Linked DNA regions of Homo sapiens. The protein of the gene in region 1 interacts with the protein of each later gene in a biochemical or structural test. Each region holds a gene or a part of one and is shown in the gene's direction. Other genes may lie near its edges. The genes, in order: DLG3, RTKN and ABCA2.

Evidence for each region.
Region 2: the proteins of DLG3 (region 1) and RTKN interact in a test that uses a peptide from one of them, tested with the Homo sapiens proteins (one large-scale study listed by IntAct).
Region 3: the proteins of DLG3 (region 1) and ABCA2 interact in a test that uses a peptide from one of them, tested with the Homo sapiens proteins (one large-scale study listed by IntAct).

The regions. Positions count from the first base shown.
Region 1 is NC_000023.11:70,489,791-70,493,433, forward strand, and holds part of DLG3 (disks large homolog 3), read left to right. Parts: intron 1-2,316; coding exon 2,317-2,493; intron 2,494-2,730; coding exon 2,731-2,806; intron 2,807-3,585; coding exon of another isoform or gene 3,586-3,643. UniProt on the Homo sapiens protein: Required for learning most likely through its role in synaptic plasticity following NMDA receptor signaling.
Region 2 is NC_000002.12:74,439,720-74,443,462, reverse strand, and holds the start of RTKN (rhotekin), read left to right. Parts: upstream 1-1,525; 5' UTR 1,526-1,646; coding exon 1,647-1,757; intron 1,758-2,879; exon of another isoform or gene 2,880-3,743. UniProt on the Homo sapiens protein: Mediates Rho signaling to activate NF-kappa-B and may confer increased resistance to apoptosis to cells in gastric tumorigenesis. May play a novel role in the organization of septin structures.
Region 3 is NC_000009.12:137,011,205-137,014,847, reverse strand, and holds part of ABCA2 (ATP-binding cassette sub-family A member 2), read left to right. Parts: intron 1-37; coding exon 38-158; intron 159-443; coding exon 444-680; intron 681-809; coding exon 810-1,016; intron 1,017-1,284; coding exon 1,285-1,387; intron 1,388-1,529; coding exon 1,530-1,846; intron 1,847-1,922; coding exon 1,923-2,136; intron 2,137-2,257; coding exon 2,258-2,363; intron 2,364-2,471; coding exon 2,472-2,583; intron 2,584-2,685; coding exon 2,686-2,746; intron 2,747-2,829; coding exon 2,830-3,004; intron 3,005-3,098; coding exon 3,099-3,214; intron 3,215-3,293; coding exon 3,294-3,441; intron 3,442-3,538; coding exon 3,539-3,643. UniProt on the Homo sapiens protein: Probable lipid transporter that modulates cholesterol sequestration in the late endosome/lysosome by regulating the intracellular sphingolipid metabolism, in turn participates in cholesterol homeostasis.

The DNA.
Region 1 (3,643 bases):
TACAACCAGTAAACTCCGCCCTCTAATCTTCTACAAATTCATCCTAACTCCCCTAATTCATTTTATTTTATTTATTTATTATTTATTTTTTAGACAGAGTCTCGCTCTGTCACCCAGGCTGGAGTGCAGTGGCGCAATCTCGGCTCACTGCAACCTCTGCCTCCCAGGTTGAAGCAATTCTCCTGCCTCAGCCTCCCGAGTAGCTGAAATTACAGGTGCCCGCTACCATGCCCGGCCAATTTTTGTATTTTTAGCAGAGACGGGGTTTTGCCATGTTGGCCAGGCTGGTCTCGAACTCCTGACCTCAAGTGATCTGCCTGCCTCAGCCTCCCAAATTGTTAGGATTACAGACGTGAGCCACCGCGCCCGGCCTCCTAAATTCATTTTAACATCTTCCTTCCTTCTCTCACCAAACTAATTTGTGCTTAATTCAAGTTCTGTTCTTTTCCTTACTATATTTGTTCTAATCTTTGAAACCCATAATGACATCCAGTGTTTCTCATTGTCACTGAGAATGAGGTTGCTTCATGATGCTCTTCTTAGTAGGAGTGGCTGACAGAATGTCTTCCTTGCTTTAGGAAATGCAGGACTCAGGCAGTGAGAATGCATTCAGTTTTGATTCTGTCACACATAGCCCGGAATGCACCTCTCGGACAGCACCTCCTTGTCTGCTGCCTCTGCCATTCTCCTTACTGCTTTGAGTGTGTAAATTGAGGGGAAAAAAGGGCTTTTTGTTAGAGTTTGGGTATTTTCATTTTCAAATCATCTGACGCTGATTTTTAAGAACTCTGTTTCAAGAGCTGTAAGCAGTAGGTGAGTATTTCACTCTTCATGGTTTTACTACATCCTATCTCATTTGGGCTTGCATATGGTAAGATAGTGTGTTTTACTTGCAGCTTCCAACTGAGCCAAAGGCCACAGTATTGCAGGTAGAAGTCAAAGTCTTGGAACTAGATTTTGGGCTGTGTGTGCAAAGGTGTGAAAACACCTTATTAACAGAGAATATGAAGAAGACAGCCTAGATTGCAGGTAGAAAAATACAAACTTCTCACTGAAATCACCCATTTGTGGTGACTCCATATGAAGACAGGTTCCACTGGATGTGAAAAGTAGAAACTTTTTTTTTGGCTTTTTTTTTTTGAGACAGAGTCTTGCTCTGTCGCTTAGGCTGGGGTGCAGTGTCGTAATCTTGGCTCACTGTAACCTCCACCTCTCAAGTTCAAGTGATTCTCCTGCCTCAGCCTCCCGAGTAGCTGGGACTGCAGGCATGCAACATCACACCCAGCTAATTTTTGTAGTTTTAGTAGAGATGGGGTTTCACCATATTGGCCAGGCTGCTCTTGAACTCCTGACCTCAGGTGATCCACCCGCCTCAGCCTCCCAAAGTGCTGGGATTACAGGCGTGAGCCTCTGCGCCCGACCTCCTAAGGCTCTTTTGATGTGTCACTCCTCTCAGATTTCCAGGGGCCACTAGATCTTGTCTATTCAAGGGCTTCCAAAATTTGCTTCAGACCTTTATTTCCAATACCATTTCCTAGGACTTCTAGCATCAGCCAAGCTGGTGTCCTTTTCCATAAGCCTGGATTGTATAGCTCCCTCCCCACCTTCTCCCACCTTCCCTTTTATTTCTTTACTCTGCATCATTTATAGCATGTCACAACAGCATGTCTTGTCAGAAGACCTGGGTTTTGTCCCAGGTTGGTTAGATGTATGACCTAGGTCAAACTATTTTTTCCTCCCTGAACCTCTGTTTCCCCATATGTAAGAGAAAGAGACCGCACTAGGTGACTTCTATGGTCCCATTGGTCTTTTCAACCCTACCATTCTGTGCTTTTTCTTTGGCTGCCCGAGGACATAGGGCCCTTTCTTTAGTGCTTCAGGAGTGTTTACCAGTCATTGTTTGGGATTGTAGTTAACATTTTTTGTCCTCTCTTTAGCTACTTTTTGAAGATATGTTTGTGAACTGAGAAAGCGCCCTGCTAGAGCTAGTTTCCTAGGATGTGGGTGAGGGAGAGGGCTATTGAGCGAGTTCTACTTTGGACTTTTATCTTGCATCCAGAAGCCAAGAGGAGATGGGGTTTGTAAAATATTTTCTCTTATGCTTCTTATTGGGAGAATGAGATGTTTCTTTGAAAGCGGGTGCATATTTACCACTTTGGCTCAGAAAGAAGGATGTGGTCTCCTGGAGACATCCTTCTAGTATACTGTGAGGCTGCTATGTCTGTGCTGTTTGGGTTGGCCTTCCATCTTTTCAAGGTGCCAGTGTCTTGGCATTTAGGGTTGGATGATCACTTCATCTTTCACTGTGCCTTTCAGGGCCCTGTTTGATTATGATCGGACTCGGGACAGCTGCCTGCCAAGCCAGGGGCTCAGCTTCTCTTATGGTGACATTCTGCATGTCATTAATGCCTCTGATGATGAGTGGTGGCAGGCAAGGCTGGTGACCCCACACGGAGAAAGTGAGCAGATCGGTGTGATCCCCAGTAAGAAGAGGTGAGTCGTCATGATCATGAGCAAGGCCTTTCCTGCCCTCTTGCTGGTATTTCTTTCTTGTTTTCCTATTAGAAGTTGCTTGAGAGCAACGTTTGTGCCTTGATTCCTTTTTGGTAGAGTCGGTACTCAACATGGTTTTTACTCAGTGAGCCAAAAAAATGGCTGCTGTGCCTGCTGCAACCCACTGCTGAGACCATTTACTGGCAGTAACAGGACTTCTTTCTGATTCCAAAACAGGGTGGAAAAGAAAGAAAGAGCTCGATTGAAAACTGTGAAGTTCCATGCCAGGACGGGGATGATTGAGTCTAACAGGGTAAGTGGGGATCCCCAAGGAAATCAGCCAGTAGGTAAAGAGGGTTGAGAAGCCTGGAGTTTAGTCTGATGTGTAGGAGAACTGGGGAACACAAAAGAAAATCTCTTTTTCAGGGGGCTGGCTCTGTCCTATCAGAACATTGACTGCTTTTCAGAAAGCAGAGAGGGAGCTCTTAAAGTTCACAGCCAGTCTGTGCTCCTTTCCCCTGGGTACCGGCTCTTGAAGATGTGTTAGAGTTGGACTGTCTGGAAGGCTGACTTGCTTGGGGAAAATGAAACCACTCGTGGGTGTCTCCCTGGCTATAGATCCTGTCAGAGCATCCGGCCAAGAAGCCCAGCTCCAGAGCTCCCACCTCCCTTCAGACCACCTGAGGCAGGCGGGTTCTCCATTCACCCCTTTTTTTCTATGAGCTTCACAGGCCAAAGAACTTCTGGAGCAGTAGAGGGAAGAGAGACGTGGAGTAGATGTGTATATCAGTGGTACCTTAGGGCATGTGTCCAGGAGGCTACAGTGACCTTTGTTCTTTAGGAAGTACCAGTGAGTGTTATGAGTGTCTGGATTATGTAGAAACTTCTAACATCCCTACAACATTTTCTTGTAAACATAATTTTCCTCTTACATCAACTTTCATTTAATCTCATAGACTCCATTTGTGAGAGATGGTCTTTTATTTAGCTCACCGTTGTCTCCATTTTAGTTTTTCTTGCATGCTTTAAAATCCATTGTTCTGTTTTTTTTTTTCTTCTGTCCTTCCCCTCCATCTTCATGTTCTTTCACAGTCGATCAAAACGAAACGTAAAAAGAGTTTCCGCCTCTCTCGAAAGTTTCCATTTTACA
Region 2 (3,743 bases), on another chromosome or scaffold:
ATACAAAAATTAGCCAGATATGGTGGCAGACGCCTGTAATCCCAGCTACTCCGGAGGCTGAGGCAGGAGAATCGATTGAACCCAGGAGGCAGAGGTTGCAGTGAGTCGAGATCATGCCATTGCACTCCAGCCTGGGTGACAGAGTGAGACTCTGTCTTAAAAAAAAAAAATTAAAATAAATAAATAAATAAATAAATAAAAATAAAAAATTATACATATTTGTAATGCTTTTTAAGAGATGGGGTCCCACTATGTTGCCCAGGCTGGACTTGAACTTTCGGGCTCAAGCAATCCTCCCACCTTAGCCTCCCGAGTAGCTGGGACTACAGGTGTGCACCACCATGCCAGGCCAATTTGTGTGTGTGTGTGCGTGTGTGTGTGTGTTTTGTTGAGACAGGGTTTCATGTTGCCCAGGCTGGTCTCCAACTCCTGAGCTCAAGAGCGATCAGTCCCCCTTGGCCTCCCAAAGTGCTAGGATTACAGGCTTGAGCCACTGCACCCAGCCATCTTTTTTTTAGACGTAGTTTCGCTCTTGTTTCCAAGGGTGGAGTGCAATGGTGGGGTCTCAGCTCACCACAACCTCTGCTTCCCGGGTTTAAGCGATTCTCCTGCCTCAGCCTCTCAAGTAGTTGGGATTACCGGCATGTGCCACCATGGCCGGCTAAATTTTGTATTTTTAGTAGAGATGGGGTTTCTCCATGTTGGTCAGGCTGGTCTCGAACTCCCAACCTCAGGTGATCCACCCTCCTAGGCCTCCCAAAGTGCTGCGATTACAGGCGTGAGCCACCGCGCGCAGCTGCTCTTTATGACTGCAAATATGGGGCACTTGCCTTGTGCCAGGCACTATGCTGGGCATTTTACCCTCATTCTTATAGGTAATCCTCATAGCAACTTGAGGAGTGGAGATAATTACAGTATTCCCACTGAACAAATGAGAAAACTGAAGCTCAGAAAGGCCAGTGACTGGACCAAGTTAATGATTGCACGGTTAGTTAGTGACAGAGCTGGGGTTTCACGACGTGTTTAAGCACCGCCCCATCAGTTGTGGCCACTAGGCTTAGGCGGATAGCCTCGCAGAGGAGCCTAGGTGGGGAGGGGGACGAAGAAGGAACATTTGGGACTGTGGGATGTTGAAATGGTCTCTTCGGAGGCTGCCGGGATTGAAACTGGGCAAGGTCCCAGGGCCCGAGTAGAGCCAGAGCGTGCTACGCGGCGATCCCTGAGCCACGGGGTTTTCAGCGCCCGGGAAGCCAGGCTTGCCAGGTTGGGGCGGCTGGCGGGGCAGGGCTTCTCGGTCCGTCCCAAGTCCAGGTAGGCGCTCGCGACCCGCGCGGGCAGGGAGAACGCGCTCCCACAGTGCTCGCGAGGTGCAGTGCGCCCCTGGGGGCTCCGGGGCCGTCGGGCCAGGTCGGCTTGGCGCCCAGGGACTGGCCGGACGGGCTGGGCCTTTGGCGGGGGTGGAAGAGGAGGTTGCCGCGCCCTGCCCGGCCCAGGTGTCGTCTCCGGGGGCGGGGTTTGGAGCCCCGCAGCGGGAGATTCCCGGCCGGACTGGCGGACGAGCGTCGAGAGACAGAAGCCGAGGAGAGGAGGCTAAGCCGGGCGGCGCGGGGAGCGCACTGAGCAGGCAAAGTCGCAGGGCCGCCAGCATGTTCTCCCGAAACCACCGGAGCCGGGTCACCGTGGCCAGGGGCTCCGCCCTGGAGATGGAGTTCAAACGCGGCCGCTTCCGACTCAGCCTCTTCAGCGACCTGCCCGAGGTGAGAGACTCGCGTCCCTGCCTTCCCCTTCCGCGGCTCCCGGGGGCAGCCCCAGCCACCTCGGCCTCCTTCCCTCGCCCGCGTGCACGCCGAGGGGCGGAGACGCACGGTCTGGGTACAAACCCGACGGAGTTGTTGACTTAAAAAGTAAGGTGTGGACGGTCTGCATTTTCATCGGATCCATGCTGCCCATTCCGCGGCCTGGTTAGGATTATCTGCCTGAGCCTGGAAAAAGCCCGGGTTGGTCTCAATTTGTAGGGCCCCAGCTCGACTCCTAAAATGTGCCTGAACCCCAAAATGTCTTGGGCATCCCCGGGCCAAGGGCGGTGGGCAGCTAGGCGGGCCCCAAGCGCTCGGACTCTTGGCCTGGGCTCCCGCTTGTTCCCCAGTCGCCAGCCCCATCCCACAACCTGTCGCAGCCATCTGGGCCAGCCTCTGTCATCAACCCCGACTTTAGGCCGGGGCCGCTCGCTTCCCCGAAGCCCAATTCAAAGGCTCCTCTATGCCCCTGCAGGGCTTTTAACTCCTTGGGGTTACTTCCCACACGCAAAATTTCCGCCTCCTTTTCTGGGGCCTAAGAGGAGTCCAGCCCCTAGGCTGAGCGTTTCCCCCGTCCGCCGTCCACGCGTTAACCTGTTGGATCCCCACCTGTAACGCCCTAAGGGCTAGGGCGGGGCTGAAGGTGTGTGGTTGAGCGGGGACTGAGAGGGCGAATAGCTACCCCGAAGACTCTTCTGTCCCCAAGGTCAGACTCACACTCGCCCAAGGAGAGCCCAGTTCCAAGCCTTCCCTTCCGGGTCTGGAAAGGGTTAAGTGAGGTGGGCCTTCCTTCCGCCCCCTCTACCTCCCGGCTGGGATTCCAGGCCTGGCTTCTGCCCTTTCCCTCCAGCCTGCCCAGAACAAAGAGGCTCTTTCACACCCTTGTCCCGGCGTCCCGGGCCTTCTCTGACTCAGAAGCTAGTGGACCTGGGGAGAGGGGGCCTTTGTCGCGTCCCCTTGCCCCCAAGCGACTGGGCCCGAGGAACCCGCGTGGGGCCAGCGTGGGGGAGTAAGGGGCGAGGCCCGGGACCAGGGGGAGGGGCCTGTGAGCTGGGGCCGCCCCTGGGATTAGCCCGGCCTTCGGGGACAGCTCGGAGGAGCTGGGGCGGAGCCGCAGGGCCTGGCGGCCGCCGAGTGAAGTGTGACTCCGTGGGCCTGGCGTGGAGGCGGGGGCGCTAGGCTGCAGCTGGCTCGGAATCGGGGCTGGTTTCCTGTCTGGAAGGGAAGGGGCCTGCAGAAGGGAGCGGGGACAGCAGCAGACAGGCACACCCCTGCCTTCCTCTCTCCCTCTCCTCCCTTCTCTGGAAAAGCGAGGTAATTGTGAGCCCAGGGTGGAGCGGGCTGGATGGGGGCCCTGAGTTGGAAGGGGTGGCCCTAGGGCTGGGCTGCTTTGCCAACTCACCCCTTTGTCCCATTCCCTGGGCTCACTCTCCCCTGAGGTCCTCACCTGTGTGGCTCTTTTTCCCAACTTTCTCAAACTAAGCTGGAACCCCTCTCGGGAAGCTCCAACCTCCTGCAAACCCCATGACTCTAGAACCTGCATGAGGCGTCGTTTCCCTGCCCCCTTCCAGTTGTGCCTGCCCCTCACTGCCCTCTCCGCACACAGATTCCCTGTCCACCAGGCCAGGGATGTGGGCGGGGGCTGGGGAGCGGCCAGAGTCGGAATGAAAGGGCCTTTTTCTTCCACAGCTGGGAGAACAGCTGCCACCAAAGCGAGACTGGACACTCTGTGCCTAGAGCCCCCTCTGCAGCTGGCCTTTCCTCCTGGGACCCCACTTATCCTCACTTCGCTTTCTTTTTCTTCCCTGCCTGGCTCCCGGCAGGGCCCCGGAGCAGCAGTGGGCGAGGAAAATTTGTCACAGCAGCCAGAGGGGTTTAACAGGAGTGCAGAGGGATAAGGGCAGCTTCTGCCCTCTGCCCAAGAGCTGGCCACCTCTTTAAAGACTG
Region 3 (3,643 bases), on another chromosome or scaffold:
GTCCCTGCCGCAGCCTCCCCCTCCACCGCCCCTGCAGCACCTGGAGCGCAGCCTGGATGCACTGCACCTCAGCAGCTTCGGGCTGATGGACACGACCCTGGAGGAAGTGTTCCTCAAGGTGTCGGAGGAGGATCAGTCGCTGGAGAACAGTGAGGCCGGTGAGGGGCCTGGACCACTTGCTCAGCCCACCCCACCCACAAGGCCCCAGCTCGGGCCTGCGCTGTCACTCCTGCCTGGTGTCTGGGGGCGCCACCCTGGTCCTGGGTGGAAGCCAGGGGACGCCCCGGGGTTAGCCTGCGGTCCTAGGTGGGTGGTCCTGGTGGCCAGAGGTCCCGGACAGGTGTATGAGCCTGGGAACTGGGGTCAAGACCGGGGATGGGGGTCCTGGGCAGGCCTAGGGGCCAGTAGCCCTGAGTGTCCCCTCGGCCCTTCCACTGCGGCAGATGTGAAGGAGTCCAGGAAGGATGTGCTCCCTGGGGCGGAGGGCCCGGCGTCTGGGGAGGGTCACGCTGGCAATCTGGCCCGGTGCTCGGAGCTGACCCAGTCGCAGGCATCGCTGCAGTCGGCGTCATCTGTGGGCTCTGCCCGTGGCGACGAGGGAGCTGGCTACACCGACGTCTATGGCGACTACCGCCCCCTCTTTGATAACCCACAGGACCCAGACAATGTCAGCCTGCAAGGTGGGGGTGGCAGGGTGAGGCTGGGACAGCAAGGGAGGGGGAGCAGGGTTGCGGGGGAGCGGCATGAGGGCAGCCAGTAGGGAGAGGGTAGCGTGCAACCACCTGCTCAGCCTCTACCTCTCTGCACAGAGGTGGAGGCAGAGGCCCTGTCGAGGGTCGGCCAGGGCAGCCGCAAGCTGGACGGCGGGTGGCTGAAGGTGCGCCAGTTCCACGGGCTGCTGGTCAAACGCTTCCACTGCGCCCGCCGCAACTCCAAGGCACTCTTCTCCCAGATCTTGCTGCCAGCCTTCTTCGTCTGCGTGGCCATGACCGTGGCCCTGTCCGTCCCGGAGATTGGTAGGCCACCGGCTGGACAGGGGTGCTGGGCTTGCCTCCCCCCACCGCCCGCTGGGAGCCCTGATGATGCCCACTCCTGAGCTTCCTGACTCTGGGCCTCACCCCACACCTGAGGCTGGGCACGCACCGGGGTTCATCCGGGAGTCCTGTCTCCTCGGGTCCCAGACCCCAGGCGTGGATCCCTTGGGGTTGGGGGAAGGGGACCGAGGCTTGGGGGCCGCTGGCCAGAGGGCAGAACCTGCTCAGGCCTCCCTGCTCGCCCTGCCAGGTGATCTGCCCCCGCTGGTCCTGTCACCTTCCCAGTACCACAACTACACCCAGCCCCGTGGCAATTTCATCCCCTACGCCAACGAGGAGCGCCGCGAGTACCGGTGAGGCCTCCAGCGGGGGCAGCCTTGGTGGGTGGGGCGAGTGAAGGGGCGGGGACAGCCTTGGTGGGCCAGGCGGGCGAGGGGGCGGGGCTGGCGAGGGGCGGAGACTGGCAGCCCCACCTCACACTGTCGGTGCCCGCAGGCTGCGGCTATCGCCCGACGCCAGCCCCCAGCAGCTCGTGAGCACGTTCCGGCTGCCGTCGGGGGTGGGTGCCACCTGCGTGCTCAAGTCTCCCGCCAACGGCTCGCTGGGGCCCACGTTGAACCTGAGCAGCGGGGAGTCGCGCCTGCTGGCGGCTCGGTTCTTCGACAGCATGTGTCTGGAGTCCTTCACACAGGGGCTGCCACTGTCCAATTTCGTGCCACCCCCACCCTCGCCCGCCCCATCTGACTCGCCAGCGTCCCCGGATGAGGACCTGCAGGCCTGGAACGTCTCCCTGCCGCCCACCGCTGGGCCAGGTAGTGGTTCAGGGGGCCTGCTGGGGGGGCAGGGGCAGTGAGGGGTCCTTCTCACCGCACCATGCTGTGCCCACAGAAATGTGGACGTCGGCACCCTCCCTGCCGCGCCTGGTACGGGAGCCCGTCCGCTGCACCTGCTCTGCGCAGGGCACCGGCTTCTCCTGCCCCAGCAGTGTGGGCGGGCACCCGCCCCAGATGCGGGTGGTCACAGGCGACATCCTGACCGACATCACCGGCCACAATGTCTCTGAGTACCTGCTCTTCACCTCCGACCGCTTCCGACTGCACCGGTGAGCTGGGTGGGGAGGCTGTGGGTGAGGGTGGCCGGCCACCAGCCACCTAGTCTCAACTCCTGCCCCTCTAGCCTCACTGCCTGCCTAGCCTCACCGCCCCTCCCACCTGCCTGCCCAGGTATGGGGCCATCACCTTTGGAAACGTCCTGAAGTCCATCCCAGCCTCATTTGGCACCAGGGCCCCACCCATGGTGCGGAAGATCGCGGTGCGCAGGGCTGCCCAGGTGAGCGAGGCTGCGGGCCTGGGCCCCGCTGTGTGTAGCGCCGCCCGAGGTCTGCAGGGACCCAGGTCTGAGGTCCTGGGGCCTTTCTGTGTCCTCTTCCTTCTGCAGGTTTTCTACAACAACAAGGGCTATCACAGCATGCCCACCTACCTCAACAGCCTCAACAACGCCATCCTGCGTGCCAACCTGCCCAAGAGCAAGGGCAACCCGGCGGCTTACGGTGAGCTGACATAGGCAGGGCGGGGCGGGGCGGGGAGGAGCTGGGGCCGGGGCGGGGAGGAGCTGGGGCCTGAAGCTGCCGCCCCCGCCCCGCCGTGTGCAGGCATCACCGTCACCAACCACCCCATGAATAAGACCAGCGCCAGCCTCTCCCTGGATTACCTGTAAGTGTGGCCAGTGGGGGATGAGGTGGGGCAGGTGGGCACTGCAGCCCCGGCCGTGAGGACTGAGGGCTTCCTTGCCCCAGGCTGCAGGGCACGGATGTCGTCATCGCCATCTTCATCATCGTGGCCATGTCCTTCGTGCCGGCCAGCTTCGTTGTCTTCCTCGTGGCCGAGAAGTCCACCAAGGCCAAGCACCTGCAGTTTGTCAGCGGCTGCAACCCCATCATCTACTGGCTGGCGAACTACGTGTGGGACATGGTGCGCCCGGCGTGGCCATGGGGTGCCCCGGCCCTTCTCATCCCCCATCCCCGCCCTGCCCCGGGTCTCTCACCAGCCGCCCCCACCCCTGCAGCTCAACTACCTGGTCCCCGCTACCTGCTGTGTCATCATCCTGTTTGTGTTCGACCTGCCGGCCTACACGTCGCCCACCAACTTCCCTGCCGTCCTCTCCCTCTTCCTGCTCTATGGGTAAGCGGAAGCGGAGGGGGGAGCGGCCTCAGGTGGGACCGGGGCTGCCTGGTGACCACTGCCCGCCACCTGCCCGCAGGTGGTCCATCACGCCCATCATGTACCCGGCCTCCTTCTGGTTCGAGGTCCCCAGCTCCGCCTACGTGTTCCTCATTGTCATCAATCTCTTCATCGGCATCACCGCCACCGTGGCCACCTTCCTGCTACAGCTCTTCGAGCACGACAAGGTGGGGCGGTGACGACATGGTGGGGGTGGCGGACCCTGCGGAGGCTGTGCCCCTCACCCCGGCCACCCCTGTGCCCCTGACCCCGGCCACCCCGCAGGACCTGAAGGTTGTCAACAGTTACCTGAAAAGCTGCTTCCTCATTTTCCCCAACTACAACCTGGGCCACGGGCTCATGGAGATGGCCTACAACGAGTACATCAAC